Homo sapiens: one gene and its partners. The protein of the gene in region 1 purifies or fractionates together with the protein of each later gene. This does not show direct contact. Each region holds a gene or a part of one and is shown in the gene's direction. Other genes may lie near its edges. The genes, in order: RASA3, TBCEL, SLC17A5, ARHGAP19 and SPTB.

What was found.
Region 2: the proteins of RASA3 (region 1) and TBCEL fractionate together in Homo sapiens (co-fractionation; one large-scale study listed by BioGRID). This does not show direct contact.
Region 3: the proteins of RASA3 (region 1) and SLC17A5 fractionate together in Homo sapiens (co-fractionation; one large-scale study listed by BioGRID). This does not show direct contact.
Region 4: the proteins of RASA3 (region 1) and ARHGAP19 fractionate together in Homo sapiens (co-fractionation; one large-scale study listed by BioGRID). This does not show direct contact.
Region 5: the proteins of RASA3 (region 1) and SPTB fractionate together in Homo sapiens (co-fractionation; one large-scale study listed by BioGRID). This does not show direct contact.

What each region holds. Positions count from the first base shown.
Region 1 is NC_000013.11:114,008,502-114,014,900, reverse strand, and holds part of RASA3 (ras GTPase-activating protein 3), read left to right. Parts: intron 1-1,652; coding exon 1,653-1,759; intron 1,760-3,652; coding exon 3,653-3,730; intron 3,731-3,789; coding exon of another isoform or gene 3,790-3,831; exon of another isoform or gene 3,832-4,246; intron 4,247-5,436; coding exon 5,437-5,514; intron 5,515-6,399.
Region 2 is NC_000011.10:121,042,902-121,049,300, forward strand, and holds part of TBCEL (tubulin-specific chaperone cofactor E-like protein), read left to right. Parts: intron 1-2,772; 5' UTR 2,773-2,789; coding exon 2,790-2,922; intron 2,923-4,626; coding exon 4,627-4,766; intron 4,767-6,399. Other genes in the region: TBCEL-TECTA protein, read left to right, coding at 2,790-2,922, 4,627-4,766. UniProt on the Homo sapiens protein: Acts as a regulator of tubulin stability.
Region 3 is NC_000006.12:73,593,702-73,600,100, reverse strand, and holds part of SLC17A5 (sialin), read left to right. Parts: intron 1-1,144; coding exon of another isoform or gene 1,145-1,242; intron 1,243-4,886; coding exon 4,887-5,024; coding exon of another isoform or gene 5,025-5,040; 3' UTR 5,041-6,399. UniProt on the Homo sapiens protein: Multifunctional anion transporter that operates via two distinct transport mechanisms, namely proton-coupled anion cotransport and membrane potential-dependent anion transport.
Region 4 is NC_000010.11:97,289,789-97,296,892, reverse strand, and holds the start of ARHGAP19 (rho GTPase-activating protein 19), read left to right. Parts: upstream 1-4,255; 5' UTR 4,256-4,265; coding exon 4,266-4,321; intron 4,322-7,104. UniProt on the Homo sapiens protein: GTPase activator for the Rho-type GTPases by converting them to an inactive GDP-bound state.
Region 5 is NC_000014.9:64,746,703-64,752,163, reverse strand, and holds part of SPTB (spectrin beta chain, erythrocytic), read left to right. Parts: intron 1-1,914; exon of another isoform or gene 1,915-2,009; coding exon 2,010-2,183; exon of another isoform or gene 2,184-2,467; coding exon 2,468-2,510; exon of another isoform or gene 2,511-2,690; coding exon 2,691-2,858; 3' UTR 2,859-5,461.

The sequences.
Region 1 (6,399 bases):
AGTGGTCTCTGGGGGGGCCGGGAAGGGTGGCCAGGCTTTGTCGGGGTGGAATGTGAATTTTCCTGATGTGGACCCCTGGGTTTTCCCAGTGGTTTCTTTTTGTGGCCGACCCTGGCAGGGCCCAGAGTGGTGTTGGGGGCTCTGCCTGCCCGTGTCTTCGAAGAGACAGGACCCCTGGGGGAGCTGCCCTTTCTTCAAACCCCCAAGCCGGAGATCCCCTAGGGACCTGGGCATCCAGCACCCAAACCCCACTTCTCAACCTTGCCGACCCTCAGGGAGGAGCTGGGTGCCTGCACCCACCCATCACCTGCGATACTCAAGACCCCGCCAGGACTCAGGCTATGTATGGGGCGCTGAGAGGCTCAGCGAGGGCCTTGCTGCCGGCTCCTCTCTTCCTTGCGTGTCCTGTGGCCTCGGGACAGCTGCAGACACCCCGGGGTGGCCATGGTCCTGCAGAGCCGTCCACGCTTCTGTGTCCCCAGGAGACAAACGCTGTCCCCACCCCTGATTCTCAGGACATCAGACAGTCAGACAGCGCCGGCCGAGGGGCCCAGGGTTCTGGGGGAGGCAGTTCCCAAGCACATCCCAGCCCCAGACCCACTTTGAACAAGGTGGAAGTGAAGAGATAAAACACATCCTCTCACCCAGATGAGCACAGACCACTGTGGAATGAGACACCAAAGGGGCTGCGCTGTGTGGTGGTGATGAGAGATGGAGAGAAACAGGGAGAGATGGAGAGAGAGGCAGAGACAGAAGGAGAGAGACAGAGAGAGACAAGGAGAGAGAGAGAGAGACAGGGAGAGACGGAGAGAGAGGCAGAGACAGACGGAGAGAGAGGCAGAGACAGACGGAGAGAGAGATAGAGACGGAGAGAGAGAGATGGAGAGAGACAGAGACAGACGGAGAGAGATGGAGAGAGAGATCGAGACGGAGAGAGAGAGAGAGAGACAGAGAGATAGAGACAGGGAGAGAGAGACGGAGAGAGAGAGACAGAGAAAGAGAGAAAAAGAGAGAGACAGAGATAGGGAGAGAGACAGGGAGAGAGACAGAGAGATGGAGAGAGAGACAGACGGAGAGAAAGAGACGGGGAGAGAGAGATGGAGTTAGGGAGAGAGACAGAGAGGGAGAGAGACAGAGAGATGGAGAGAGAGAGAGAGAGCCAGAGACAGACGGACGGAGAGAGAGAGGGGGAGAGAGAGAGAGAGACAGAGATAGGGAGAGAGACAGGGAGAGGGACAAAGAGGGAGAGAGACAAAGAGATGGAGAGAGAGAGAGACAGATGGAGGGGGGGAGAGAGCCAGAGACGGAGAGAGAGAGAGAGAGACAGAGATAGGGAGAGAGACAGAGGGACAAAGAGAGGGAGAGAGACAGAGAGATGAGAGAGAGACAAATAGAGGGAGAGAGAGAGAGACAGAGATACGGAGAGAGACAGGGAGAGAGACAAAGGGGGAGAGACAGAGAGATGGAGAGAGAGAGGGAAACAGAGAGAGGGAGAGAGGGAAACAGAGAGAGGGAGAGAGACAGACACAGGTGGAGATAGAGCCAGGACTGTGGCTGGACTTCCCTGCGGACCCTCAGGGGGCCGGGGCATGGTGTCCCCACGAGGCCATTGTGCCCGAGGAAAACGGTCACCCTGCTTCTCTCTCCCGCAGATGACCCGGACGTCAGGTACACTGCAGTGAGCAGCTTCATCTTCCTGAGGTTCTTTGCGCCCGCCATTCTCTCCCCCAACCTCTTCCAGCTCACGCCGCACCACACGGTGAGTGACCGGCTGAGGGACCGAGGCTTTCTGAGCTGTCCTGCGACGCCGGCCTGGGTTGGGGCATCTGCGTGGCTGTAGGGGGCCGACCGTGTGGAGTGTGGAATGCGTGGGGAGTGTGTGAGGAATCAGGAGTGAGTGGGGAGTGTGTGTGGAATGAGGAGTGAGTGGGGAGTGTGTGTGGAATGGGGAGTGTTTGTGGAATGAGGAGTGTGTGGAGTGCGTGGACTGCGTGGGGAGTGTGGAAGGCATGTGGAATGGGGAGTGTGTGTGGAATGAGGAGTGAGTGGGGAGTGTGTGTGGAATGGGGAGTGTTTGTGGAATGAGGAGTGTGTGGAGTGCGTGGACTGCGTGGGGAGTGTGGAAGGCATGTGGAATGGGGAGTGTGTGTGGAATGAGTGAGTGGGGAGTGTGTGTGGAATGGGGAGTGTGTGTGGAATGAGGAGTGTGTGGAGTGCGTGGACAGTGTGTGGGGAGTGTGGAAGGCGTGTGGAATGGGGAGTGTGTGTGGAATGAGGAGTGAGTGGGGAGTGTGCGTGGAATGAGGAGTGTGTGTGGAATGGGGAGTGTGTGTGGAATGCATGGGGAGTGTGCATGGAATGAGGAGTGTGTGTGGAATGCGTGGGGAGTGTGTGTAATGAGTGAGTGGGGAGTGCGTTTGGAATGGGGAGTGTGTGTGGACGGTGCATGGGGAGTGGGGAGTGTGGAAGACGTGTGGAATGGGGAGTGTGTGTGGAGTGTGTGGACGGTGCACGGGGAGTGTGGAAGGTGTGTGGAATGGGGAGTGCGTGTGGAGTGTGTGTGGAGTGTGTGGACGGTGCGTGGGGAGTGCTGGTGGATGCGCTGGGTCCTGGAACGTCCTCGTTGCAGGTGGTTCACCGACCTATTTAAGCTGTGTACGTTCTGGGGGAGTCGAGACAGTGTCACAAAAGCAGTGGACGGTTTGTCCAGGGTTTTAGCTGCTGGTCACCGCCCTGCTCTCCTCCCCTGCCCATCACATATGGAGTATTGATGATCGGCGTATCATCCGTGTATTGAGTCAACAGATTCCTATTTAGCACTGATTTTCTCCAGGCCCCAATGTGGTTGCTGGGGCCGCAGCTCTCAGGGTACAGGGATCTGGGGTGACCGTGTTGCACGTGCGGGTGGCAGAGCTGGAAGGAGATGGCCAGGGCGAGAGGACGTGAGGGATTGCCCATTCCCCAGCACTTCTTTTTTTTTGAGACAGAGTCTTGCTCTGTCACCAGGCTGGCGTGCAGTGGTACCATCTCAGCTCACTGCAACCTCTGCCTCCTGGGTTCAAGCAATTCTCGTGCGTCAGCCTCCCTAGTAGCTTGGATTACAGACGTGCGCCACCACGCCCAGCTAATTTTGTATTTTTATTAGAGATGGGGTTTTACCATGTTGGCCAGGCTGGTCTCGAACTCCTGACCTCAAGTGATCTACCTGCCTCGGCCTCCCGAAGTGCTGGGATTACAGGCGTGAGCCACCAAGCCCGGCCCCCAGCACTTCTGAGTTGAACCTTCAAACCCTGTGAAGGCTGAGATGAGCCCCAGGCAGGGCCAGGAGACTCAGCACCCCGAGACTCAGCGCCCCAGAGCCATGACCCCACCTGATGCTTTCGACTTTGAGATGCACCCTGCACGCTGGGCCGAGAGAGTGGGTCACCGCGGTGCCGTCGGATGTTGCCTGCGGGATGGTCTCAGCAGCTCCTGAGACTGTGGGACGCCCACCCCCTCCAGTCCCATCTGCGTCGCTACCCCTGTTTCTCCGTAGCTCATGCACAAGCCACAGCAGCTCTGAGGTGACTCCTGCATTTCGTCCCCTCGATCTGGGACAGTCACAGCATTTCTGTGATGCTGACATAGACCTTTCTTGCTCCCGCCTCCCCAGGACCCCCAGACGTCCAGGACGCTGACATTGATCTCCAAGACCGTTCAGACCCTCGGCAGCCTGTCCAAGTCCAAATCTGTGAGTCCCTCTTCTTCATTTTCTCTTTTTAGGGACAACTGATTCTTTTCTCTCTTCAGAAAATACACGTGAAAAACCTCCCACATTTGAGAGAGTCGTAAGATAAAGATCAAGAATCAAAGCCGGCACCACATCCTCTCTTGAAACCCAGGACCTGAGCGTCCCCGTCCCGCTCACCTCTCCCCTCCTAAAGTGAACCCCTTGCCTTTTTCGGGAGCCTGTGGCTCGTCGCCGGCCCCGTGGCAGGAGCAGCATCTGACCTGTCAGGTGTGGGAAGCGGCTGAACAGGCCAGGCAGATGGCCTAACCTGGCGCCTCCTGGGCGTTGCGGTGCTGGAGGCTCCTCGTCACGCAGCCCCCTACTCCCCTCGCGGCCCCCTCCTCCCCACGCGGCCCCCTCCTCCCCACCTCCCCACGCGGCCCCCTCCTCCTCACATGGCCCCCTCCTCCCCATGCTGCACTACCTCCCCATGCAGCCCCCTCCTCCCCACTTCCCTCCCCACGCAGCCGCCTCCTCCCCACGTGGCGCTTCCTCCCCAAGCGGCCGCCTCCTCCCAACGTGGCGCTCCCCTCCCCACGCGGCCCCCTCCTCCCAGGGCCCCTCTCTCCCTGTGGATATGAACCTCCGTCCTCCATCCTCGTCCCTTCAGACTGGATCTGGTGCCACCAGGTCAGGAGTCCCTCAGGCATCTGCCCCATTTCCCCCTAAGAGCACCTTGTGTGTTTGAGGGGGTCAGAGCTGACGTTTGAGGCGTCCCGGGGGCAGTGCTCCTGGTGAGGCCCAAGGCTGTCTCTGCAGGGGCCAGGCCAGGGCAGTTCGATGCCTTCGGGCCCCCTCGGGGCTCCGTCTGGAGAGGGCTGGGCTGTGGTGCACAGATGCCCAGGCCTCCTGGTTCCCTGTTCTTGGTGGGGCCCAGGTAGAAATGAGGGCTTTGGGGAGCAGAGGCCCCCACTGGAGGAGCAGCCCGCTTGGGGCAAACGTTGGGTTTCTCTGAGTCCGAGTGAGTAAAAGATGTGCCACACTCGCAGGCAGGCCGAGGTGCACCGACCGCTCTTTCCCACCAGCCAGGCCCTGCGCTGTGGGCTGGAAACTCCATAACAGGCACTTGAGCCTCCTCCGAGGTCTGCACCAAACCCACCTCATTTCACAGCCAGGGAACTGTGCAGTGACCTCAGTGTGGAAACAACAGGAACTTGGGGTCGAGCCTCAGGAATGGTGGCTGCAAAGGCCCCCCCGAATCCCTGGGTGCCTCCACTTCCCCGTGTGATGGAGGTCCCTGCCCCCTCTTCCCACCTCAGAGCGGCCCTTATGCCCCACGGGCGAGAGATGGGCGTGGGGGCTCTGGGACCCTGGCCTATGACTCCAGGTTCCCAGGCAGCCACATCTGGGCCCCAACGTACCTCTTCATGAGCCTGGGACCCAGGTGTGAGGGACAGCCCGGGGCCAGGACGGAGTCACTGATGCCAAAGGGTGCTTGGAGACCTCACGGGCACTGGCAGGTCTGATGGTCTTCGTTGGCGCCTGAGCGATTTATGTGATTCGTCCTCCGGGCAGCCCTGCGGGCTCTCACTTGCCCGGTAACACCGGGTTCTTTGCCTGTTTATCGTCATTTAGGCTTGGACAGTTCTTGCCTCTAGCTTTTTCAGATTTGGGCCGTGAGCCGAGGTACTTCGGGCTGTCCTCGAGTGATCTCCGTTTCATTTTAGGCGAGTTTTAAGGAGTCCTACATGGCTACATTTTATGAATTCTTCAATGAGCAGAAATATGCTGATGCGGTGAAGAACGTAAGTATCGACTCACCCTCCGACCGCCCGTGTGCCGTGCTCAGGAGACGGAGTTCTCTTTTAAAATTGAGATAGAACCCACATGACACAGACTTGGCCATTAGCGATTTTAAACAATAAAGGCGTTCGGTGCATTCACAGCGCTGTCCAGACAGCCTTGTCCCAAGTCCTGGGACACCTCCTCCCACAGTTGGTAAACTCTTTGGCGTGACTGCCTTTGGGGCCAAAACGGGGCCCTCGCCCATCTTGTTCTGTGTCTGAGCCCCCCGAATGAGGGCGCGTCCCACCTCAGTGTGTGTGGTGGCCGGACTCACTCTAGGCTGCAGTCGTGGAGCCCTGGGGCTGCAGACTCAGTGTCAGGAACGCGGTGCGTGGGGAACATCCAGACCGCAGGGCTCTGCTCCTCCCCACAGTTAGGAACGCGGTGCGTGGGGAACATCCAGACCGCAGGGCTCTGCTCCTCCCCACAGTCAGGAACGCAGTGCGTGGGGAACATCCAGACCACAGGGCTCTGCTCCTCCCCACAGTCAGGAACGCGGTGCGTGGGGAACGTCCAGACCGCAGGGCTCTGCTCCTCCCCACAGTCAGGAACGCGGTGCGTGGGGAACGTCCAGACCGCAGGGCTCTGCTCCTCCCCACAGTCAGGAACGCGGTGCGTGGGGAACGTCCAGACCGCAGGGCTCTGCTCCTCCCCACAGTCAGGAACGCGGTGCGTGGGGAACGTCCAGACCGCAGGGCTCTGCTCCTCCCCACAGTCAGGAACGCGGTGCGTGGGGAACGTCCAGACCGCAGGGCTCTGCTCCTCCCCACAGTCAGGAACGCGGTGCGTGGGGGGAATATCCAGGCCCCAGGGCTCTGCTCCTCCCCACAGTCAGGAACGCGGTG
Region 2 (6,399 bases), on another chromosome or scaffold:
CCCAGCTAGGGAAAGAGCTTAAATTTCTTATGTCCATGTGCTTTCTATTGTACTACAACTTCCTCTTAGAATTAACATTTATATATTTTAGAACTTTACAATGGCCCTTTAATCCAACTAGTGCATTTGTATATTTTAGGGCTCTACAGCAACCCTGTAATCCATATAGTAGAGACGTTAATACCTTATTTTATAGTTGAAGACACTTGAGATAACAGTGACTTGCCTGATGGCACAAAACTATTATGTAGTCAGAACTGGGTGGGCGTAAACCTGCCCTTCATCCTGAATTCTCTGCCCTTTCTTCTCAGCACCTGAGAGGCTAGCGATTTTAATACTCGGCAACGTTTATCAAACCGTTACCATGTATAATAAACTATGCCTGATGCTATGAATTGATACTGAAAGAAATAGGATTACACAGTTCCACTACCCTTTATAATGTAATGGTAGAGATAGGATAACCACATAAGAAAAATACCTAACGTTCATTATAATTAAACAATATAAGCAAAAGTAAACCAGTAACTATAGTGAAGTAAATATGTCACCACTAATTGGAAGCAATTTGAAGCATTATCTGGCTAATATCAAACAGCCTTCTGAGAAGCTTTTCGGTGCTTGTTCCTGCTAGTTTCTTCTAGGAAAAAGTACGGGTGGTGATTTTTCAGCCTCTTCAGGGCTACTGGCTTCTCCCTTGTAATCTATAACCATGTTTGGGTCTTTCCTATTTTAAGATATAAAATCTTGACAGTTGCCTGGATTCCCTACTCTCTTATCATCCCATCTTCCTTCTCCACTCCCAGCAAAACTTCTCAAAATATTGGCTAAACACTCTACTGTCTGGCTGTTTTCTTTCTTTTTCTTCATGACTCTGTTTCCTCTGCCTGTCCCTTAAATATCAGTGACTATTGTCTTATTGTCCTTATTCATAAAATTTTATATATCGTAATGGTGTCCAAATCTTCATCTTTAGCTCATTTTTCTCATTCAACTCCAGATTGTTTCCCTGGATGTTCCACAGGCACTTCAAATTGAACACGTATAAAGTGGAATTCATCATTTTCTTCTGTAAAACTGGCTCTGTTCCTGCTTTCTTGTTAGTTAATGGTATCACCAGTCACCTGGTCACCTGAACTAGAAACCCTGGGAGTCATTTTTGACTTTACCTTCTCCCTCAGCCCCTGTAATTTCTGAATAGCTTGCTTTTTAACATGATCGTGAATCTGCCTCTGCTTTCTATTTATTCTACCAGTGAATCACTTCAAGCTCTCACGATCTCTCTGCTGTATTTTTGCAGTATCTTCCTAACTCTTCTCCCAGCCTTCAGTCTTGTTTCCTGCATATTCATCAGCTCCATGATTCTCAGGATGAGTTTTCCCTAAAACTTCGTTGTTGTATTCCCTTCCTTAAAACCTTTCAGTTTTTTCCGTTTCCTGTAGGATAACATTAAACCTCCTAATGTGGTATACAAGATCTCCTCTGAGGCTCCTAGTTAGATGCTCCTGACAATGTCTACCATTGCCAGGCTGCTTTGGCAACATCAGATATTTTGTGCTTACTCATATATACCATAATACATTTTGACTACAGTTCCTTTTCTTATGATATCCCTTCTTCTCTGAGTACTCCAGAGCCTGTATATCCTTCTCCCTACTGATTATTTTAGTAAAAAAGCCTGATACCTAATAGTTGAAATTACAGAGGTCAATTTTAGCTGCCTATATTTTGATTAATATGCATCATAGGCCAGCCCCTTAAGTAATGAGTTATCAGGTTGTTAGAAGTTAGCGTGTTGTTTAATATTACCTGTTTTAATGTATGCATGAGTCCTTCTCAGTACTCATCGTCTCAGATGCTGGAATCATTCAGTGTTTGGACCCTTAGCTGATGCTAAACAGAAAGGACTCTACCCAAACTCAGAACCAAAAGAGATGACATTTTGTATTATTTAGGATTAGGTCCAGTTATAGGTAACTAAAAAATTGAGAAGAACAATGGCTTAAGCAAAATAGGTTACTTATCTGTCATTGAAATTTCCAGAGATATGTACCAGTATGGCAGCTCAGTTACATGAAGTCCTCAGGGATGCAGAGCCCTTTCAGCAATTCGTCCCACTTTTCTTAGTGTATATTCCTTGGGTTCATTGTCTGGTGGCATCAGTTTTCTAGGCAACAGATGGAGGAAGAAACAAAGGAGGGCAAGTGGCACACTCTGGTCATCTTTTAACGATGATTCTTAGAAGCTGCCACAGAATACTTGGTTTCTAGCCCATGAGCTAGAACTTAGCCAGCACTCATTCCCAAATACAGTTATCCAGTTATCCAGTTAAAGGTTCTTTTACTATGGAAGAAGATAATGGATTTTAGGGACAGATATTAAAGGATTCATCCAAACTGTTTAGCCTGATGTTCAATCTGTACCTTCTTTTTCAGACCTTTCTTCAATTACTTATCCACATGAATCCTATGTACCAGCCAAAAGCCTTCTCATTGCCCTTGGTTGGAAGTGATCAACTCCTCTTCTAAATCTTGTAATAGTTTTCATCTGTATTGCAGATATATGCTCAACTGTTATTGCTGTCATTTGTATATGTAGCTTCCCTAAATTGTAAGCTGTCACCACAGTATATGTTTCTGGGGTCAGTAACTAAGTATCATATGTCTTGCAATGCCTAGTCTAGTACTTTATACATAATGGGTTTTCAATAAATACTTCTTATGTGAGTAAATACATAATTACATAATTTGATTATTTCTTGGTTTCTTGTAGCATTTTAAGAAAGAAAGATGGATCAACCTAGTGGAAGAAGTTTCATGCAAGTATTATGTGAAAAATATAGTCCTGAAAATTTTCCTTATCGCCGTGGCCCGGGGATGGGAGTCCATGTCCCAGCCACACCTCAGGGCTCTCCTATGAAAGGTAAGAAAGATGGGACCTAAAACACTTATTTAGTGGAGCTTACTTAGGATGTTAAATCACAGTGTTGCCTTGTTTGCAAATGATTTATTTTATTTTTAATTACAGTCAAATAGTCTTTCCCCCTTGTTATGATTTCAGTTTTCTAAAGAACGTAACAGGACTGGTTTTCCTCCAGATTGATTAAGAGATGTTTTAGTTGCATGTGTATGACAGGAATAATATTTGAGTGATAATATTTCAAATGCATATTCTTTTATGGAACATAGAGGGTACAAAACAGTACAGGACTGGCCTGTGCCCTCCAGGACCTCATAGCCTAATTGGTTTACAAGACATTCACATTTACAAAGGTAAATAAACACAAGACAATTTATGTTGAGCCAAATGAATGGTATAGTGATTTGGAAAGAAATTTAAAAGATAATTAATATGATCAAGAAATGATTCAAAGCTGTGAGATTTTAACTAGTTCTTCAAGAATGTAGAATTTGGTTAGAGATGAGATACATTCTAGGAGAGGGATTAGATGTGAGCAAAAATCTGTAACTAGAAGTGTGCAAGGTATATTTTTGCTTGTCTTTTAGCTTAATGTTGCCATTAACAGTTCTTGGAAGTAGTTTTTTGTAATTGTGGGGGATTAATATTGAGTCACTGTTTTAGTTCTTACTTTCAAAGGTTACTGAGTGTTTGCTGTTTCTAAATACAATAATTTTATCTCTATGTAACCTGGAATGGCAGAGAGAAGTGGATTTCTTACTTGGTAATTTTTTTTTTCCGGGATCCATTCCCACTGTGATAAATATGTTGCTGAAAGTAGCAAGTTGAAAACCATGTAATTTGAGGTCTCCATTAATAAAGTACTACCTTGATGAGTCCTTGTTTTATACCAAATGGGAAAAGAGTGGTTGCATTCTCATGTTTATCCTTTTTAGTAGAGATTGTAAGAGTGATTTTATTGACACATGTGTTTTTGAACCAGGCAGTAGTCAAAAAGTTGTTACCTCAGTTTGACCAAATTCAATGTTAATAGTTTAAGACTGAAACACTTTCTTCCATTACAGTTAAATTTTTAAAGAAGGCTAATTTTCATAAGGGACAAATTCTGTAGGGATATGAAATGGAGATAATTGATAGACAAGAGAGAGAGATGTAGAGTTCTGAATGGATCCACTTAAGTGAGGAAGATTTCTTGAATGATGTAAACTTAACAGAAGTGATTTAGTAGATTAATGGTTTGAGATGATTTTCAGAGGCACAAAAGATAAAGATACACATCAGATAGAGAGAAAAGAGCCATCCAGAATACTTTGGAACTAAATTTCAAAAAGAAAGAATTGAGGCCTATAAGAAAGTACTGGTAGTCCACACATGAATTTCATGGATCTCTTGTTCAGATGATAAGATGATAGCGTGGATGAGGGCTCTGTTGTTGGTAATTGAGATAAACAATCCTGCTATGAGTTAAAGCCTAGAGGACTTTTTTTGGTGGTACGGGTGCAGTACTTCTGAACTCCTCCTGGGCAATAACTGGCTGTCTCCTCTTAGGATTCAGTACCCTTTGGTCCCATTATATCCTGTATTTTCTAGATCCTTATGTAATTTCACACAGTTTGATTTTTGTTTCTTGACACTTCCTGGGGGCTGAACATATGTAGACAAGAATTTGGCTGATATAGAAAACATTTTGTGTCTCTCATCATTCAGATCGCCTCAACCTCCCAAGTGTACTAGTGTTGAACAGCTGTGGAATAACCTGTGCAGGAGATGAAAAAGAAATTGCTGCTTTCTGCGCTCATGTGTCGGAACTAGATCTTTCTGACAACAAACTCGAAGACTGGCATGAGGTGAAGTTTTTATATTGCTACATTTTAGTGAAAAGCAGCAATAACCATTGTGTCATTGTTTATGTTATTATATGTTCTGCTAAATTCTGTTCTCACTTGATGTCTGTATGACTTCTTGTTGTCTGTATATCTTATTGTCTGTATGTCTTTATATCAAGATAAATAAGGCCTATAATCCCAGTGCTAAGGAGGCTGAGGCAGGAGGATCACTTGAGCCCAGGAATTCAAGACCAGTCTGGGCAACATAGCAAGAACCCATCTTTAATTTAAAAAAAAAAAAAAAAAAAAAAGGCAAATAACTGACTCTATCTATGGTGATTTTTCGTTAGCTTTGTTATTGTTATTGTTGCTTTGTTATTGTTAATTTATTTTTCATTGTTCATTTGTTTTCATCAATCACTAAGGAAATTTAGGCATCAAGAGGTTGATTAGTCTTTGTCAGCTTAAACTGCTAACAGTGCATTAAATTTTCTACTGTTTCACTAATTTATACATCTTATGCTCATTCTCTACTTCTACTTCAATATTTATTACTGAAAATTGACATAAAATTGTTGAAACTGAGAATATATATAAATATATTTATTCTTGTTATTGAAATTTATTCAAATATTTTACAACTTTTCTTATATTATCAAATCCCTTGGGTGGTTTGACATAACTGATGTCTTGACCTCAGAGTAACTATAAACTACACACATAGTTTGTAAAAGTACACAAATACAGTTTTGTAACATTCTCTTATTATTATATGTAACATTACCTACCTGCTTATAACATTACCTGATAGGAGCTACCCTGAAGAAGAAGGTTAAAATGTTCTTCCTACTTGGTTCATTCTTCTGCCTTAATTTGGGCTCTTATTTTTTGATTTGACTTTAGGAAGACTTTCCTAATGGGTTTTCCTGGATCCAGCTTTATTCTGTTTCTGCTAAGCTGTCTTCCGTAGTGCTACCACAGACTCCTTTTAATATATGACTCATGATTATGACACTGTCCTGCATAAAGGCCTACAGTTGCCTTTCTTTGCCTAGAAACTAAAGTCTGACTCTATAAGCATGACCCTTCATCATATGGCCCTTTGCTATTTCTAGAACTTTTTCTCCCTCTTTAGCCATATACTTTTACTTGCAGCTCATGATAAACTCAAAATAAAAAGCTTCCTTGCTTTTATTCATTCTGAACCCACTGCTCTCTTTCTTTTCTTGTCTACCTGGCCACTTCCTATTTATCCTTCAAGACTTGGCCCAAGTTGCTATTCCTCTGTGAAATTTTCCCTGGCTGTCTCACAGACAGAGTCAGATTATCGCAGAGCACCTACACTATACCACTGTGAAAGGATTTATCACAGTCTTGTATAATGACTTGCTTACTTGACAGTTTTCCTAATAGACTATGAGCTTATTCCAAGTGGAGATTTTTATCTTTTTTTTATCATAAGCCCAGCATACCAAGTAGTCAAATATTTGTTGAGTGCGTTAATGATTAAATGATTATATCTTAAGGATTAATCAAGACCTCTTGTTCCAACTTTTCCTGTGATCTTAAGAAATTTACTTAATCCTTTAGAGCTTTAGTTTGCTTATCCATAAGGTAGGCTTGCCGATAAAATTAATCATTGAAACACTTAGTA
Region 3 (6,399 bases), on another chromosome or scaffold:
TGATATTGGCCGGGTGCAGTGGCTCATGCCTGTAATCCCAGCACTTTGGGAGGCCGAGGCAGGTGGATCACGAGGTCAGGAGTTCAATACCAGCCTCACCAACATGGTGAAACCCCGTCTCTACTAAAAATACAAAAATTAGCCGGTGTGGTGGCAGGTGCCTGTAGTCCCAGCTACTCAGGAGGCTGAGGCACAAGAATCGCTCAAACCCAGGAGGCGGAGGTTGCAGTAAGCCAACATCACCACTGCACTCCAGTCTGGCAACAGAGCAAGACTCCGTCTCAAAAAAAAAAAAAGAATTTCAGGACATACTTACAGACTTTCTTATTACCAAATATACTGATTTCAGACATATATCCGACAGATAGTGTTCCTACTTCTTCTCCACATCTACCATTTCTAATTCCTTAAGTGACACGGTACCTGTTACTATTTCCTCTCACTTAATAAAAAGGAATGTTGTAGAAATGCTTTTTCTAAAGTTCTGTGTCTCAATATGGACATGTCCAAAATGTTTAACCTTGTCCTCATGGAGCAGGGTGGCAACACCAGAACCTAAGTCAGCTCACTACCATGTGTTCATTTCACTTACTGATAATGCCAGCACTTCTGCTAGGGAAATATGGATTCCTGAATTACAGTCTTGTATGTTTACAAGTGGGAACTGCGCTTGATTTGGGATATGTTACAGCATTTGTTTAATGCTATTAAAAGGATATCACTGTTTTAGCTGGGTGTGGTTTGTACCTGTAGTCCCAGCTACTTAGGAGGCTGAGGCAGGTGGATGCATAAGCCCAGGGTTTTGAGGCTGCAGTGAGCTATGATCATGCCTCTGCACTCCAGCCTGGGTGAGAGCGGGAGACCCTGTCTCAAAAAAATAAAATAAATAAAAAATAAAAATAAAAAAATAAACAAAATAAAATAAGTTTCGCACTCCGTTGCCCAGTCTGGAGTACAGTGGTGCAGTCTCAGCTCACTGCAACCTCTGCCTCCCAAGTTCAAGCGATTCTCCTGCCTCAGCCTCCCAGGTAGCTGGAACTACAGGCACTCACCACCATGCCCTGCTAATTTTTGTTTTTTGTTTGTGTGTGTGTGTGTTTTTTGGTTTTTTTTTTTGAGACGGAGTTTCGCTCTTGTTGCCCAGGCTGGAGTACAATGGCGCAATCTCAGCTCACCACAACCTTTGCCTCCCGGGTTCCGGCGATTTTCCTGCCTCAGCCTCCCGAATAGCTGGGATTACAGGCATGTGCCACCACGCCCAGCTAATTTTGTATTTTTAATAGAGACGGAGCTTCTCCATGTTGGTCAGGCTGGTTTGGAACTCAGGTGATCCGCCCATCTCGGCCTCCCAAAGTGCTGGGATTACAGGAGTGAGCCACTGCACCCGGCCAAATAAAACTCTAAAGTATATTATTTTTAAAAAGGAAAAGCACACACTTACCTTCACAATTGTAATTTCTTTCTTCTTTTTGAGATGAAGTCTCACTCGTCCCCCAGGTTGGAGGGCAGTGGCGTGATCTCAGCTCACTGCAACCTCCGCCTCCCAGGTTCAAACAATTCTCCTGCCTCAGCCTCCCAAGTAGCTAGGACTACAGGCACGTGCCACCACACCCGGCTAATTTTTGAATTTTTAGTACAGATGGGGTTTCACCATGTTGGCCAGGCTGGTCTCGAACTTCTGACCTCAAATGATCCACCCGCCTCAGCCTCCCAAAGTGCTGGGATATCAGGCATGAGCCACCGCGCCCAGCCTGTAATTTCTTACTTTGAGCACTGCCTCAAAAACTTTGTGGAATGAGTCAGCATATAAATAAATAATGCAATAATTAAAATTCAAAGTGTGTCTGAGGTTCAATGTTGTTATAAACAAAACAGTATTCTCTAAAAACTGGTGGAATTTTTGTTAAAAAACAAACTAGGAGCTGTGTGAGACTTGTAGTACAACGATTGATTTTAAGTTCACTCATTGCCTTCAGATAACACTGAAGTATTATTTTGTCCCAGAGACCACACAGGGCAGCTTTGTCTTAGTAATCCTAAGAAGCTGTTTCAAACATTTCTTTCTGGTATAAGATGTAATTATTGACTGATTCCTCAGCAGAATTTAAGATGAGTATCTAAGATTTTTTTTCATTAAAATGCACTCATCTCAGACAAGTATAGCCACCACAGGGTGTTTCTTTCTTCATGTTTCTCCTTTTTTCCCAAATAAATGACCTCATACTGGCTTCCCAGTGCCTTCTCTTTCACTTCCTCATTGCTAGTTCTACTGCTTGTTTGTTTGGGTTTTTTGTTTGTTTGTTTGTTTCTTTGTTTTTTGAGACAGGGTCTCCATCGCCCAGGCTAGAGTGCAGTGGCGCAATCATGGCTCACTGCAGCCTCAACCTCCCCAGGCTCAGGTGATCTTCCTACCTCAGCCCCCCAAGTAGCTGGGACTACAGATGTACACTACCATGTCCAGCTAATTTTCCTACTTCTTGTAAAGATGGGGTTTCACCACCTTGCCCAGGCTGGTCTCAAACTCCAGGGCTCAAGGTAGCCACCTACCTCGGCCTCCCAAAGTGCTGGGATTACAGGCATGAGCCGCCATGCCTGGCCTGCTTGGTTTTTTTTGTTTTGTTTTGTTTTGTTTTTGAGACGGAGTCTCACTCTGTTGCCCAGGCTGGAGTGCAGTGGCACGATCTTGGCTCACTGCAAACTCCGCCTCCCGGGTTCACGCCATTCTCCTGCCTCAGCCTCCCAAGTAGCTGGGATTACAGGTGCCCACCACCACGCCTGGCTAATTTTTTGTCTTTTTAGTAGAGACGGGGTTTCACCTTGTTAGCCAGGACAGTCTCCATCTCCTGACCTCGTGATCCGCCCACCATGGCCTCCCAAAGTGCTAGGATTACAGGCGTAAGCCACCACGCCTGGCCTGGTTTATTTATTTATTTATTTTTGAGACGGAGTTTCACTCTTGTTCCCCAGGCTGGAGTGCAATGGCATGATCTCAGCTCACTGCAACCTCCGCCTCCCAGGTTCAAGCAATTCTCCTGCCTCAGCCTCCCGAGTAGCTGGGATTACAGGAGCCTGCCACCACGCCCAGCTAATTTTTGTATTTTTAGTAGGGACAGGGTCTCGCCATGTTGGCCAGGCTGGTCTTGAACTCCTGACCTCGGGTGATCCACCCACCTCAGCCTCCCAAAGTGCTGGGATTACAAGCATGAGCCACCACGCCCAACCAGTTTTGTTTTGTTTTGTTTTTGAGAGGGAGTCTTGCTCTGTTGCCCAAGCTGGAGTGCAGTGGAGCGATCTCAGCCTCACTGCAAGCTCCACCTCCCAGGTTCACGCCATTCTCCTGCCTCAGCCTCCCGAGTAGCTGGGACTACAGGCACCAGCCACCACGCCCGGCTAATTTTTTATTTTTTTAGTAAAGACGGGGTTTCACCATGTTAGCCAGGATGGTCTCGATCTCCTGACCTCATGATCCGCCCGCCTCGGCCTCCCAAAGTGCTGGGATTACAGGCGTGATCCACCACGCCCGGCCGTGTGTTTCTTAGTTAATGCTGCAAATGTAGTCACCACTCTGGTTAGACTGAAATTGAAAAAATCCAAAAAATGGTTGTTAAAGGTAGTCACATGACCCAGAAATTTAGATAACTGTCTGATATTTTTATGCCACAGGGTTATACACTGAACAGTTGTCTTACTGACAGATCCCATGTTATATCCTGCTTTGTATGCCATTCAAGATCTTTTATACTTGCCAGGCCTCTCTCTGATGTCACAGATCCTCAAAGCTGAACTTGAGTTCATCTTAACAGTATTTACTTGATCCACCTGACACCTTTCACCTGAGAACCCAGGAGACCGTGCACAGGCATAAGACTTTCTTAGTGTTAGTTAGTGTTAGGCATGATTCAGGGACATGCCAGTACACTTTTTATTGAAGTATATCTATCTATCTTCAGTAAACTTTTTATTGAAGTATAACTTTTTTTAAATGCACAAATCCAGGCCAGGCGTGGTGGCTCACACCTGTAGTACCATCACTGCGGGAGGCTGAGGCGAGTGGATCACTTGAGCCCAGGAGTTCAAGACCAGCCTGGGAAACATGGCGAAACCCCATCTCTACCAAAAATATATATATATATGTATATGTATATATATACGTATATATATATATATGTATATGTATATATATACGTATATATATACATATATATACACACACAAAGAAAATTAGCCAGGCATGGTAGCATGCACCTCTAATCCCAGCTCCTTGGAAGGCTGAGTTGGGAGGATTGCCTCAGCCCAGAAAGTGGAGGCTGCAGTGAGCCGAGATTGCGCCACTGCACTCCAGCCCGGGTGACAGAGTGAGACTCTGTCTCAAAAATAAAAACAAAAATAAATAAATGCACTAATCTAAAGTGTGCAGCTAGATGAATTTCCACAAAGTTAATACATCTGTGTAACCAGCACCCAATCAAGAAACAGAATATTACCTCCCTCAGTAAGACCCCAGGTACCATTTCCTCCTATTTTTCCTTCACCCTCACCAAGTGGAACCACTCTCCCAACTTTTAACCCCATAGATTAGTATGGTCTGACTTTGGGCTTTATATAAATGGAATAATTTAGTATGTACCTTTTTTGTCTGGCTTCTTTTGCTTCATATTTTGTTTGTGAGCTGTATTTATGATGTTGTAGCCCATTCTCATTGCTGTATTGTATTACGTTGAACAAATATACCACTATCCTACTGCTGGTGGACATTTGGGTTGTTTCAAGGATGAGGCTTTTATGAATAATGTGGCTGTTTTAACACTCTTGTGACACTATCTTTTTAATGAAGTGAACTACACACAAAATTTTATTTCACTTGCATTTTTTGTCTTCCTTTATAGAACACTGTTGGAGAATGGCAAACCGTGTTCTATATTGCTGCTGCTATTAATGTTTTTGGTGCCATTTTCTTTACACTATTCGCCAAAGGTGAAGTACAAAACTGGGCTCTCAATGATCACCATGGACACAGACACTGAAGGAACCAATAAATAATCCTGCCTCTATTAATGTATTTTTATTTATCATGTAACCTCAAAGTGCCTTCTGTATTGTGTAAGCATTCTATGTCTTTTTTTAATTGTACTTGTATTAGATTTTTAAGGCCTATAATCATGAAATATCACTAGTTGCCAGAATAATAAAATGAACTGTGTTTAATTATGAATAATATGTAAGCTAGGACTTCTACTTTAGGTTCACATACCTGCCTGCTAGTCGGGCAACATGAAGTAGGACAGTTCTGTTGATTTTTTAGGGCCATACTAAAGGGAATGAGCTGAAACAGACCTCCTGATACCTTTGCTTAATTAAACTAGATGATAATTCTCAGGTACTGATAAACACCTGTTGTTGTTCACTTTCCTCATAAAAATTGTCAGCTCTCTCTGACACTTAGACCTCAAACTTTAGCATCTCTGTGGAGCTGCCATCCACTGTATAATTTCGCCTGGCAACTGGACTGAGGGGAGTGTGCCCAGGCAGCTGCCAAGCACTCCCTCCCTGGCTTCAGGGTCAGAGTGCCCAGCGTTTATCAGAGGCAGCATCCAAGCCCAGAGCCAGTGTCGACTCTTCGGCTGGTGCCTTTCCTCTGAGGGGCTATCAATGTGTAGATAAAGCCCTGAGTAGGCAAGAGCAGTGAGATCCACTGCTATGGTCTTGATACATCCTCAAACTTTCCCTTCCCAGCACAGAGGAATATTGGCTGGCATGCAACCTGCAAAAGAAAAATGCGAAGCGGCCGGGCACGGTGGCTCATGCCTGTAATCCCAGCACTTTGGGGGGCTGAGGTGGGCGAATCATGAGATCAGGAGTTCGAGACCAGCCTGGCCAGCATGGTGAAACCCCATCTCTACTAAAAATACAAAAAATTAGCTGGGCGTGGTGACGGGCGCCTGTAATCCCAGATACTCAGGAGGCTGAGGTAGGAGAATCACTTGAACCTGGGAGGTGGAAGTTGCAGTGAACCAAGATCACGCCACTGCACTCCAGCCTGGGCGATGGAGCGAGACTCCAACTCAAAAAAAAAAAAAGAATAAAGAAAGAAAAGTGCGATGCCCAGTCAATCACAAATAAGATCATCCTGGTTTAAATCTACTCTCACATGGATCACAGTATAAATTTCTATGTGCTGTGTTTTGTTCGTTTGTATTTTGTAGAGATGGGGTCTCGTTTTGTCGCCCAGGCTGGTTTTGAACTCCTGGCTTCAAGCGATCCTCCTGTCTCGGCCTCACAAAGTGTTGAGACTACAGGCATGAGCCACTGTGCCCAGCCTGTTCTATGTTTTTAAGCTACACGAGAATTTTTTTTTTAATTAATTCTCACTGTTTGTTCAGTCTGTCTTCATCTAAGTTT
Region 4 (7,104 bases), on another chromosome or scaffold:
AGCAGCTTTTCAGAAATTATCTTTTTTTTTTTTTTTTTTTTTGGGACGGAGTTTCGCTCTTGTTGCCCAGGCTGGAGTGCAATGGCGCGATCTCGGCTCACCACAACCTCTGCCTTACGGGTTCAAGCGATTCTCCTGCCTCCGCCTCCCAAGTAGCTGGGATTACAGGCATGTGCCACCATACCTGGCTAATTTTGTATTTTTAGTAGAGACGGGGTTTCTCCATGTTAATCAGGCTGGTCTCTAACTCCCGACCTCAGGTGATCCGCCCGCCTCGGCCTCCCAAAGTGCTGGGATTACAGGCATGAGCCACTGCGCCCAGTCTCAGAAATTATCTTATTTTACTCTTCACCATACCCTTGTGAGACTTATTATCCTCATTTTACAGAAGAGGAAATGGAATCAGAAAGCTAAGTAACTTATCCAGGGTCACATAGCTAGGAGCTCTGGAGCCAGGATTTGAACTTGGGTTTATTAACTCCAGAGCCCATGTAACTACTGTGCTGTATTTTCCCAAACATTATATAAACATGTGATTTGGCCAGGTGTGGTGGCTCATGCCTGTAATCCCAGCACTTTGGGAGGCCGAGGTGGGTGGATCACCTGAGGTCAGGAGTTCGAGAGCAGACTGGCCAATATGGCAAAACCCTGTCTCTACTATAAATACAAAAACTAGCCGGGTGTGGTGGTGGGTGCTTGTAGTCCCAGCTACTCGGGAGGCTGAGGCAGGAGAATTGCTTGAACCTGGGAGGCGGAGGTTGCAGTGATCCGAGATCATGCCACTGCACTCTTGCCTGGGTGACAGAGTGAGACTCTGTCTCAAAAAAAAAAAAAAGGTGCGATTCTTCATTAAAAAAAATGAACCAGAAATATAGTTTTGTGGCGTTCCTCCTAGTTGCAGTGGTAATACTTTAAAGTTTTGAACAGTTTTTCTTTTGTGAAAGCATCAATTTCATTCAATCCATCAGTCCATGTGCTGGGTGTCATGGGGCTAGAAACAAAACTAGTTCTTATTTTGAGGGAAGGGCAGAATTTGAGCCTTGGGTTCCTTGCTTTGTATATATAGCAATTAACACAACCTGGATTTTCTTTTCTTTCTTTCTTTTTTTTTTTTTTTGAGACATAGCCTCAACCTATTGCCCAGGCTGGAGTGTAGTTGCACGATCTCGGCTCGCTGCAACCTCCATCTCCTGGGTTCAAGTGATTCTCCTCCATCAGCCTCCCGAGTAGCTGGGATTATAGGTGTGTGGCAACACGCCCGGCTAATTTTTGTATTTTTAGTAGAGACAGGGTTTCACCATGTTGCCAGGCTAGTCTGGAACTCCTGACCTCGGGTGATCCACCCGCCTCAGCCTCCCAAAGTGCTGAGATTACAGGTGCGAGCCACCTCGCCTGGCCTTTTTTTCTCTTTTCTTTTCTTTTTGAGACAGTCTCACTCTGTTGCCGAGGCTGGAGTGCAGTGGCACATGATCTTGGCTCACTGTAACCTCCACTTCCTGGTTTCAAGCGATTCTCCTGCCTCAGCCTCCTGAGTAGCTGGGATTACAGGTGTGTGCCACCATGCCCGGCTATTTTTTTGTATTTTTAGTAGAGATGGGATTTCACCATTTTGGTCAGGCTGGTCTTGAACTCCTGACCTCAAGTGATCTACCTGCCTCGACCTCCCAAAGTGCTGGGATTACAGGCGTGAGCCATCACACTTGGCTTCTTTTTCTTTTTTTGTTTTTTGTTTTTTGTTTTTTTGAGACAGGGTCTTGCTCTGTCAGGGTGGAGTGCAGTGGCATGAACATGGCTTGCTGTAGTCTCAATCTCCTGGGCTCAAGTGATCCCAGCCTGGATTTTCTAAGGCTGTCTGAGGTTCAATGAAAAATTTCACTGATACGTTTGCTAAATTTTATGTTTCTTTCCATGTATTTGCTCAATAAACATGATTTGTTAAACATCAAACTAAATAAGACTGGGCATGGTGGCTCACACCTGTAGTCCCAGCACTTTGGGAAGCCTAGGTGGGTAGATCACTTGAGTTCAGGAGTTCGAGACCAGTCTGGCCAACGTGGCAAAACCCATCTCTACTCAAATACAAAAATTAGCCAGATGTGGTGGCACACACCTGTAATCCCAGCTACTTGAGTGTCTGAGGCTGGAGAATTGCTTGAACTCGGGAGGCAGAGGTTGCAGTGAGTGGAGACCATGCCACTACACTCCATCCTAGGCAACAGAGTGAGACTCTGTTTCAAACAAAAAACATAAAAAACATCAAACTAAATGCAATTTTATTTGGACACATTTATCAAACTTTTATTTTCTTTTTTAGAGAAAGGGTCTCATTCTGTCGCACAGCCTGGAGTTCAGTGGCACAATCATAGCTCACTTTAACCTTGAACTCCTGGGCCCAGGTGATCCTCCTGCCTCAGCCTCCAAAAGTGATGGGATTATGGGTGTAGGCCACTGTGCCTAGCCCTTATCAAACTTTTAGTATTAATTCATCAATTGAAAAAAATCTATTAGAGTATATGATTTGATTTTTTATTTGGATATAATAGTTTGAGGACTTGCTTATATTTTTCAAAAATATTTATTGGACAGCCATTATGTGCCAGAAACTGTGGGGAGCAAAATAAATATAGTCTCTGCCCACTTGTGGCAGGAAGCCTAGCTGGGAACCCTCACATGAAATAAATAGTCACACAAATGACTATGTAATTGTGAGTTGTGATATGAACTGTGAAAGAATAGTACAGAGTTCTTTGTGAAAGTTTACTGAGGGAATTGATTTATACAATGGGGGTCATGGAAGATCTTTGAGCCAGTGACATTTAAGCTTCGACCTGAAAGCCAAAAAAGTGGAAAAATGGACGAGCCAGAAAAAGCAACATGTGCAAAAGCCCTAAGACAGTTCAGAAAGTGAAGCATGTGCAGTACAGTTTAGTAAAAAGGAGGCAGAGTGCAGGGAGAGCCCCAGGTGGCAGGATATCAGAAGGATCAATACAGAAATTCCCGAGAAAAGTCCAGCATAGGAAAACAATATGGAAAAACAAAAAACAACAATGCTCAAAATTTACAATGTTCTCACATATGTTGCCTCAGTTAATCCCTAGGAGAAGTGTGTGCCGCAGGGAGGACAAGGATAATTATGGTTATTCCTACCATTGAGGATTAAAGTTTAGTTTGGGACAAAGTCATGCAGCTTTTGGTTCCATGGTTCATATCACAAGGCAAACTCTGTGGGTTCTCTGGGAAGTTGGAAGGGAGTGAATGTATTGAAGCAGAAATGACCGACTCCAGCCTGGCCAACAGGGTGAAACCCCATCTCTACAAAAAGTACAAAAATTTGCCCTGTGTGTTGGTATGCTGCAATATTGTACTGTGCTCCAGCATGGGAGACAGAGGGAGACCTTATCTCAAAAAAAAAAAAAAAAGAAAGAAATAAAGGAAGAAAGAAATGACCTATGGCTAGGGCTATGCTGAGTATCTGAAGAAAGAAGGCTTTGAACTATACGTTTAAAAGCAAGTACTTCTAGGTTGCCACTCCCTGCCTGCACTTGAGGGATTTATCTCTGGGTCAAGACAGAGAACGAGTCTTGCATTAAATTACATTAAATTAAATGAATTAATTTATGGCTGGGTGCAGTGCCTCATGCCTGTAATCCCAGCACTTTGGGAGGCTGACATAGGAGGATTGCTTGAGCTCAGGGGTTCGAGACCAGCCTGGGCAACATGGTGAAACCCTGTCTCAACAGAAAAAAAAAATTAAAAAAATTGTAAAAAAAAATTATTTATTTTCAACTTTTATTTTAAATTTAGGGGGTACATGAGTTGGTTTGTTATCTGGGTATATTGTGTGATGCTGAGATATAGGGTACGGAGTCTTGCATTTTAGAAAGTGATGAGTCACTTTCAAAGTTGACAGTTCTATAATTCCCTGATTTACATATCAGGACAAAATTTGAGCATAGGCTGGTGATTTCTGACTTGAACCTAAAGGTCTGTGGAATCGGAAGGGTTCATCAAAATGAGAAACTACAACTCCCGGCAGGCCTCGGGGCTGGGTCTTCTTCCCCGCCCCTCCCTCTTTTTCCGCCAGGGCTGGGAACGACCAATGACGGTTAGTCATTTGAATAGACCAATAATATATTAAACGGTTCAGGTTGAGGAGGGGCGGTCGAGTCATCCAATCGCACGGAAGAGGTGAAAACATATTAGCCAATCCAAATATGTGGGGGCGGGACGTAAGGTGGGGCGGTGAAAGAAGTTTGCTGACGAAGATGGCGACTGAGGCACAGAGTGAAGGGGAGGTGCCAGCCCGCGAATCCGGCCGGAGGTGAGCTGAGTTTGGTCCAGTTTCCTGGGAAACGCGGCCTTGGGCTGGTAGTCCTGCCGCCTTTGCCTTGGGTCACGGAGGCGCACGGTTCGGGCTTTGTTTCTTTCTCCCACGGCGTTTCTCATCGTCGCGCCTGCGGGGGCTGAGGCGCGGGGGTCGGGCCTGGGCGCTGGACTCCAGCCAAACCCCCCGCTCGGTCCTGCCGGTGCCCGAGGGGGCTCCTCCCGCTGCGCTGGCTGCAGACGTCCAGCTGGGGGTGGCAGCGCTGATCGCTTTGGCGCCGAGACACCTCTTGATGGCGAGGAAACGGAAGTCCAGGGCTGGTTAGCGAATTCCTCACTGTTGCACACAGCGCTTCACATCTTCTCCGAGGCACTTTGTGCGTTCAGGTCCGAGCAAGGATTTGAGTGTCAATTAGAAACAGTGTTGAGTCCTTGGGCCAGTTTTTAAACCTCTCTCGACTTCAGTTTCTTCATCTGCAAAGGGACGTGAGGATGCCTATTTCCAAGTGTCAAGATTGAATAAGACAATCCATTTAAAGCTAGCACTGAGTTTAGCCGATAATGACAACTCTACGCAATAGATTTTCTTCTTCCTAGTAGAACAGCTAAGGAGCAGATGGGAGAGGGATCTGTAGTCCAGGACATCATGACTTTATTTCCACAGGATGTTCTTTCCTAAACAGCCACACCGAGATTTAGCGTTTTCAGGAGAGAATTTCGAGGTGGTGTTGCCTTAGCCTTGAGACCTAAGTTGTCTTAATTGATTACAATTTTGTTTTTGGTGTAATTCAATAGATTGAGTTTATTTACGTTGCCTCAGTGTAACTCAGTAAAATACTTCGGTTTGGCGTCTTTTGGTTCCATTTGTACCGAATAAGAGATTCCAAGAATCTTGGGAAACTAATAACTTTGTGACTCGGCTTCTTCCTGAGCCCAGATGAGCGTGGTTGAGTGTGTTATTTAAAATATCATACGGGGCCGGGCATGGTGGCTTACGCCTGTAATCCCAGCACTTTGGGAAGCCGAGGGGAGCGGATCACCTGAGATCAGGAGTTCGAGACCAGCCTGGCGAACATGATGAAAGCCCGTCTCTACTAAAAATACAATAATTAGCCGGGTGTGGTGGCGGGCGCCTGTAGTCCCAGCTACTCAGGAGGTTGAGGCGGAGGTTGCAGTGAGCCCAGATGCGCCATTGCATTCCACCCTGGGTGACAGAGCAAGACTATGTCTCAAATAAATAAATAAAATAAAATATGATATGGAAGAGTTTTCCACTCTTTTTTGTTTTGTTTTGTTTTTGTTTTGCAGTTGCAAGATTTCATAGAGTGAAATAGAGTGAAAACACAGCTCCCACACAAAGGGAGGGGACCCAAAGTGGGTGGCCGTTGCTGGCTCTAATGCCTGGGTTTATATCCTGATCCTTGTCCCTCCCGCTGTGCTCTCAGGCAAGAGATGATTGGCTATTTCTTTACCTCCTGTTTTTGCCTAATTAGCATTTTAGTGAGCTCTCTGATTGGTTGGGTGTGAGCTAAGTTGCAAGCCCCGTGTTTAAAGGTGGATGCGGTCACATTCCCAGCTAGGCTCAGGGATTCTTAGTTGGCCTAGGAAATCCAGCTAGTCCTGTCTCTCAGTCCCCCTTCTCAACAGGAAAACCCAAGTGCTGTTGGGGAGATTGGCCGATGACCGCCCTAACTGCTTCCTGCTGAATTGGGGCGTAGTAGGGGTTGTGCAGTTGAGATTTCCTCGGGAGGGTTGCCTTCGATGTCATTAACATCGGAGCATGGGCTAGCAGGCTGTTCCAGGGGTCCGCGGTGGATCTTAGTCATAGACTGCATCTGGGGCTCCATTTGAAGAATGATTTGTAGTTTTACAGTTTCAATTCTGGAAGAGACAAACGCTTTGGATGCCCCTTCGTGGTCACCAAAATGTTACCGGGGGTCCTTGCTCACAGAGCTCCCAAGATGGTGGCCAGCCGCTTCTAAGATGATGGCGGGCCGCTTCCAGGATGGTGGCAAGCCTAGTGTTCTCTGACCTGGGGTTCTCAGCCTCACCGATTCCAAGGAATGGAATCTTGGGCCATGGGGTGAGTGTTACAGCTCTATTAGAAGCTGTGGGTCACGGAAGAGAACCGTGGAACCCAGTGACTGGTGTTCAACTTGATTAGGACGAACCCAGGCACTTAGCCATGCAGGAACAATGGCAAGCCTTTAGCACGATCGGGAGTGGCAATGGGAGTCTCACTGGATCAGGAGCACAGCAGACACCCTGCCAGATCCGGAGGGATGGGAGTCAGCAGCGGGATGGGAGTCAGCGGCGGGTCTGCGACAGCGGCAAACAGCAGTGGTAGAGGGCGAGCAAAAGCTCAGCTCCAGCCATAACAAACATAGACCAGAAGAGTGCAGTTGCAAGATTTAATAGAGTGAAATAGAGTGAAAACAGAGTTCCCATACAAAGGGAGGGGACCCAAAGGGGGTTGCCCGAGTTTTCCACTCTTGAAGCTGCCTATAAATGGTTGATCATTTTTTTTTTTTGCCCGGGAACTGTAGAGGTGATTGATACATTTGATTAGATCATCCTTCATCCAGTTCTTTAAAAATTTCTAAATTTTGGTGAAAATCTGAGGACAAATAAAATACTATTCCATAGCAAGAGTAGTTTGAATTTATTTTCTTTTCTTTTCTTTTTCTTTTCTTTCTTTCTTTCTTTTTTTTTTTTTTAACACAGGGCTCCTTCTGTTGCCCAGGCTGGAGTGCAGTGATACGATCACAGGTCCCTGCAGCC
Region 5 (5,461 bases), on another chromosome or scaffold:
CTCACCAAACATGCCAGTTGACATGAGCCCTATTTGTCTTTTTTTGTGTTTTGTTTTGTTTTGTTTTGTTTAGACAGAGTCTCACTCTGTCACCCCGGCTGGAGTGAACTGGCTCAATTTTGGCTCACTGCAACCTCCGCCTCCCAGATTCAAGTGATTCTCCTGCCTCAGCCTCCTGAGTAGCTGGGATTACAGGCACGTGCCACCACGCCTGGCTAATTTTTTTTTTTTTTTTTGCATTTTTAGTAGAAATGGGGTTTCACCTTGTTGGTCAGGCTGGTCTCGAACTCCTGACCGCATGATCCGCCTGCCTCAGCCTCCCAAAGTGCTGGGATTACAGGTGTGAGCCACCACGCCCGGCCGACATGAGCCCTATTTGTAAAATTTGTTCCTTTAAAAAGTTTAGTATACTTGGCACATCTCATCAAAACAGAAAACAATCACTGAAACAAAACCCTGTTCATTCCTTCACAGTTCTTTAGTGAGAATCAAATACACTGATGGATGTAGAAATATTGTAAAAAGTTAATTTTTTACTGTTGGTCTTAAGACGTAATAGTTCTATAAGTGTACTTCAAGGTAAGATCAGAATTATAGGCACAGATTTATGTGTAAGAATGTTCATCACATTGCTATTTAAATTATGGGCACATTTTCCAGTATTATAAGGTTCATCAATAAAGGGATTGTGAAAGTCTTCCACATAGCTATTCAAAATTATTTTAAGAAATATTTGAGGATAGGGGCCGGGCGTGGTGGCTCAGGACTGTAATCCCAGCACCTTGGGAGGCTGAGGTGGGTGGATCGCCTGAGGTCAGGAGTTTGAGACCAGCCTGGCCAACGTGGTGAAACCCTGTCCCTACTAAAAATACAAAAATTAGCTGGGTGTGGTGGCTTGCGCCTGTAGTCCCAGCTACTCGGGAGGCTGAGGCAAGAAAATCGCTTGAACCTGGGAGGCGGAGGTTGCAGTGAGCTGAGACTGCACCACTGCATTCTAGCCTGAGTGACAGAGGCTCTGTCTAAAAATATGTATATTATATATAAATATTATATATTATATATATTATGTATAATATATAAATGTTATATACTATAAATGTTATATATTATATAATATATAATTGCTACATATATAATATATAACATAATGTATAATATATAATGTATTATATATAATGTATAAAATATACATTATATGATGTATAAAATATGTATTATATAGTATATGATATATAATGTAATATACATATTTTATATATTTATATATTTCATATAAATATATATTATACATAATAGGTATATATGTTATATAATAAATATGTAAATATTATATAAATTATATAATAAAAGTATATATAAATATATATTACATATATACTTTTTTTTTGAGACTAAGTCTCGTCTCTGTCACCCAGGCTGAAGTGCAGTGGCTCAATCTCGGCTCACTACAAGCTTCGCCTCCCGGGTTCAAGCGATTCTCCTGTCTCAGCCTCCTGAGTAGCTGAGACTGCAGGCATGCGCCACCAAGCCCGGCTAATTTTTGTATTTTTAGTAGAGATGGGGTTTTACCACGTTTGCCAGGCTGGTCTTGAACTCCTGACCTCAGGCGGTCCGCCCGCCTCGGCCTCCCAAAGTGCTGGGATTACAAGTGTTAGCCATCTTGCCTGGCAAAAAAAGAAATATTTGAGGATATGGAGAAATACTCATGATTTAGTGTTATGCTTAGAAACACGATATAAAATTGAATATATCCATAACCCAGTTTTAGCTATCTGTGACTAGTAAAAAAAAAAATGCGAAAATGTGAAGACTAGAAGGAATACATAAAATGTTAATAATAGCTAATTTTTTGTAATGAAATTACATGCAGATGATTTTTTAACAATAAAACATGTTACTATGTATCAGAACAAACATGGTGTAATTTTTTTTAATGGTGAAGCTATAGGAATTGACTCTAGAGATACCATATCAGGATGTGGGTGACCTGCCTGTCTGCATCTTTGCAGGTCCTGGAACAACCTGTACTGTGTGCTCAGGAACAGTGAGCTAACCTTCTACAAGGATGCCAAGAACCTGGCCCTGGGGATGCCCTACCATGGGGAGGAACCCCTGGCCCTGAGACATGCCATCTGTGAGATTGCTGCCAACTACAAGAAGAAGAAGCACGTCTTTAAGCTGAGGTGAGGCCTTCCTGGCCTTTGAAAGCTCGGGTTGATGGCTTGATTTGGCATTAGTGGCAGGGCAGAGGCCCTCTGTAGGGGACCAGTGCCAGGCCTGAGCTGCTCCTCAGGGGTTTTTCAAATCAAAGAGGCTGATGGTCCAGACTTTGACCTCTCAGAAAGTGCTGGGCTGCCTGAGAGGGGTCTGGATGTTCGGCTCAGGGTATTGTGGGATCAGAGCCAGCCCTCTGCCCAGCGCCCCCTCCAGAGGTGTCTCCATGACAGGAAACCCTTTGTCCTCCTAGGCTGAGTAATGGCAGCGAGTGGCTCTTCCATGGCAAGGATGAGGTAAGCGCGGGCAGCCTAGCCCAGACCTGGCTAAGAAGGGGGTAGGTGGAGGACCCCAGGCCGCTTGCCCTGGAGGCCCCCTCAGAAGGGGCAGTCCCAAGAGCCCCCACCATTGTTGCCTGGCCCGGGAGGTGGGGGGCTGTGGGCCTCCAGACTCCACCGTGACCCTCCGCCCCGCAGGAGGAGATGCTGTCCTGGCTGCAGGGCGTGAGCACCGCCATCAACGAGTCCCAGAGCATCCGCGTCAAGGCGCAGAGCCTGCCCCTGCCTTCCCTCTCCGGCCCCGACGCCAGCCTCGGCAAGAAAGACAAGGAGAAGAGATTCAGCTTCTTCCCCAAAAAGAAGTAGCAGGTGGGGCTGGCGGGCGCGGCGGAGTCGGGACGCGCAGAGACCGGGCAGCCCAGGCCTTGGCCTCCTCTCGCCGCCGCCCGCCGGTCGAATCGAGATGAGTCGAGTCGCGGGCCGGGCCCCCGGGCCCCACGCTGCACTGCAAAAGCTGCCTTCGCCCGCGTGTCCTGGGCCGACGCCCCCTCCATGCCCTCGCCCGCGCTGGCTCCGCTCCAGGGACAGGGGCTCCCAGCTCCTCTGGCGCCTTTGGGGCCTCCAGGCCTGGGGGCAGGAAACGGTTCTCTGAGGCACACGCCCTCCTCTCCCACCCTCCTCCTGAGCCGAGGGGGCACAGGCCCCTTACCCCCAACCAAAAAAAAAAAAAAAAAAGAGCTGGAGAAGGCTGATGGGGTTCTTCAAACGCTGCCCGTTCCTAAAGCAAGTCTTGCTTCGGGTCACCTCCCACCTGGTGGCAGCCAGGGAAAGGGGAAAGGAAGAAGACACTGGAAATGCATGGCCAGCCCCCTAGGGGCATGAGGAAGGAGCCTTCAGGTGGCCCACAAAGCCCTAGCTCTGGGCCAGGGGCTCTGGGGGGCTGAGGGGACCAGACTGGGTGCAGGGCCTTGGGAGCTGCCAGCCTCCTTCCCACTGGGCTTCCGCAGAACTGGGACTCTCACTTCAGGGGCCACCACATCCCTCCTCTCTGCTTCTCCCCCCAGATCAAAGGGTACCCTCCCACGGTTGGCAGGGCCTGGCTGAGTGCCTCTAGCACCCTTTGTGCCACCACAGGCGGTCCCAGGAAGGGCAGCAAGGTCAGACCATTCCTCATTGAAAACCGTGGCTAGGGCACAGGGCTCTGATCTGAAGGAGTGACAGGTGCGTCACAACACTGCCTAAGGCTCTCCCTCTCAATGCTGGGACCCTCGCCCCACTCCCAGTGGCAGCCAAACCAGCAATATCCAACAGACATAGGCCCCCTACGGGACAGTGTGGGCCCCCAGATATAAGATGGATACCCCCCGCACCTGCAGTAAAGCATCCCAAAGCCAAATGCTCAATTGCATCCTGTCTGCAGCTGGGACTTTGGAGGGTAATGGCTGGGCAGACAGTAAAGTTGATCATCTGTTTTCTCGGGGTGGCAGACGCAGCCATGTCTTGGTATCACCACCCATGTGACAGCTACTCCTGCACAACTGGGACAAATGTCAGGGCCAGAGCCATGAAGGTGTGGTACCCCTTGATCAGCTTCTCCACGTCCTGGCCCCAGGTCTTGGCGGGGAGGGGGTCACATGAGTACAGAGGTCAAATATCTACCACCCTCCAGCCCTGAGCACCAGAAGCTCTGCAACCAACGTCCCCAGGAATGGCCTTCCCCTTGCTGCTCAGGTCATACTTCTGGAGGAAGAGAAAGCTCATTCCATATTTTCCCCACCACTCTACTCCGAAAGCAACACAGTTCTGGCCCAGTATCAAACTAGGGTTAGGTCCAAGAGAGCAGTCAAGCGGGTCGGGGGTGGGGGGGAGGGCGGAGGGCAGCAGGCATTTTCCCCCAAGGAAACCATGAAAGTCCCCAGGGCCTGCAGTCAAGTTTCTATCACCTTCCCCGTGAGAAGGACCTTAGTTCCATGGAGATGAAGTGGGTGAGGTTCAGGTAGAAGCCACAGGGGCAGGCATCCAGAATGAGGCCCCCTGAGGAACCCTGAGTGCTGACCAGTGCCGGCAGAAATCAGTTCCACCCTGTGGCCCTGACACTATATGTCAGGGTGACACCAACTGCAGCAGGCAGGAGCCACAGGAAGGAAGACGTCATCCGATGGAGCCTGACATCCCCAGGTTCCCGCCCTGGTGAGCAAGGTCTTCATTTGGCTTTGGTACATATGACCCTATACAGGGAACCTAGTGTGTATCACTCACCAGCCTCTTTCTGTATCTGGGGAAACCAAGGCAGTGAGGTGACTGCACTCACCTAGCAATAAAGTAGGCCTTTGGTGCACTTGCAGGCATGTCCTCCTCTGGGGCAGAGAGCAGGTTCCTTGCTGAAGGGCAGATGGTGGCAAACATCTCCCTCAACTGTTTCCCTGGGCCAGTCTTTAGGGAGCCTAGGGACAAGGGCCCACCCTCCCCCTTCCACGTGTGCCAAATCAGCACCTGAAGTGAGGCATTTCCAGCAAGCAACTCCACAGACCCGAGAAAGGAAGGGCTCTAGTGGAAGAGCTAGCATCTCACCACCCCAGGTCCCCTGGCCTGGTCCAGGGCAGCCAGCTGCATGTGACCATTCTGTTGCCAGCTCCCCACACATCCCTCCTGTCACCCAGGCTCCAAGACATTCGACCAACTAGACTGAAAATGCAGGCATCCAGCTTTGGGAGACCCTGTGTGTGCCACACCAGGGCTAAGCTCTCCCAGTGCCCTAGCAAGGTCTTTTTTTTTTTTTCTCTCCTTATTCTACTCTACAGTCTTTTGACAGTATTCCCAAACGAGGTTGACACAGCTCCAGTCCACACCAGCATACCAGGCTTCCTTCCCAGGGCAGTTTAGAGGAAGCTCCTTCTGGGCAAGGTCAGGCGGTCCTCCTTCCCTCTCTCCTTCCCCTTTGTCCCAGCCTCAACTGACTCTGGCTGTGG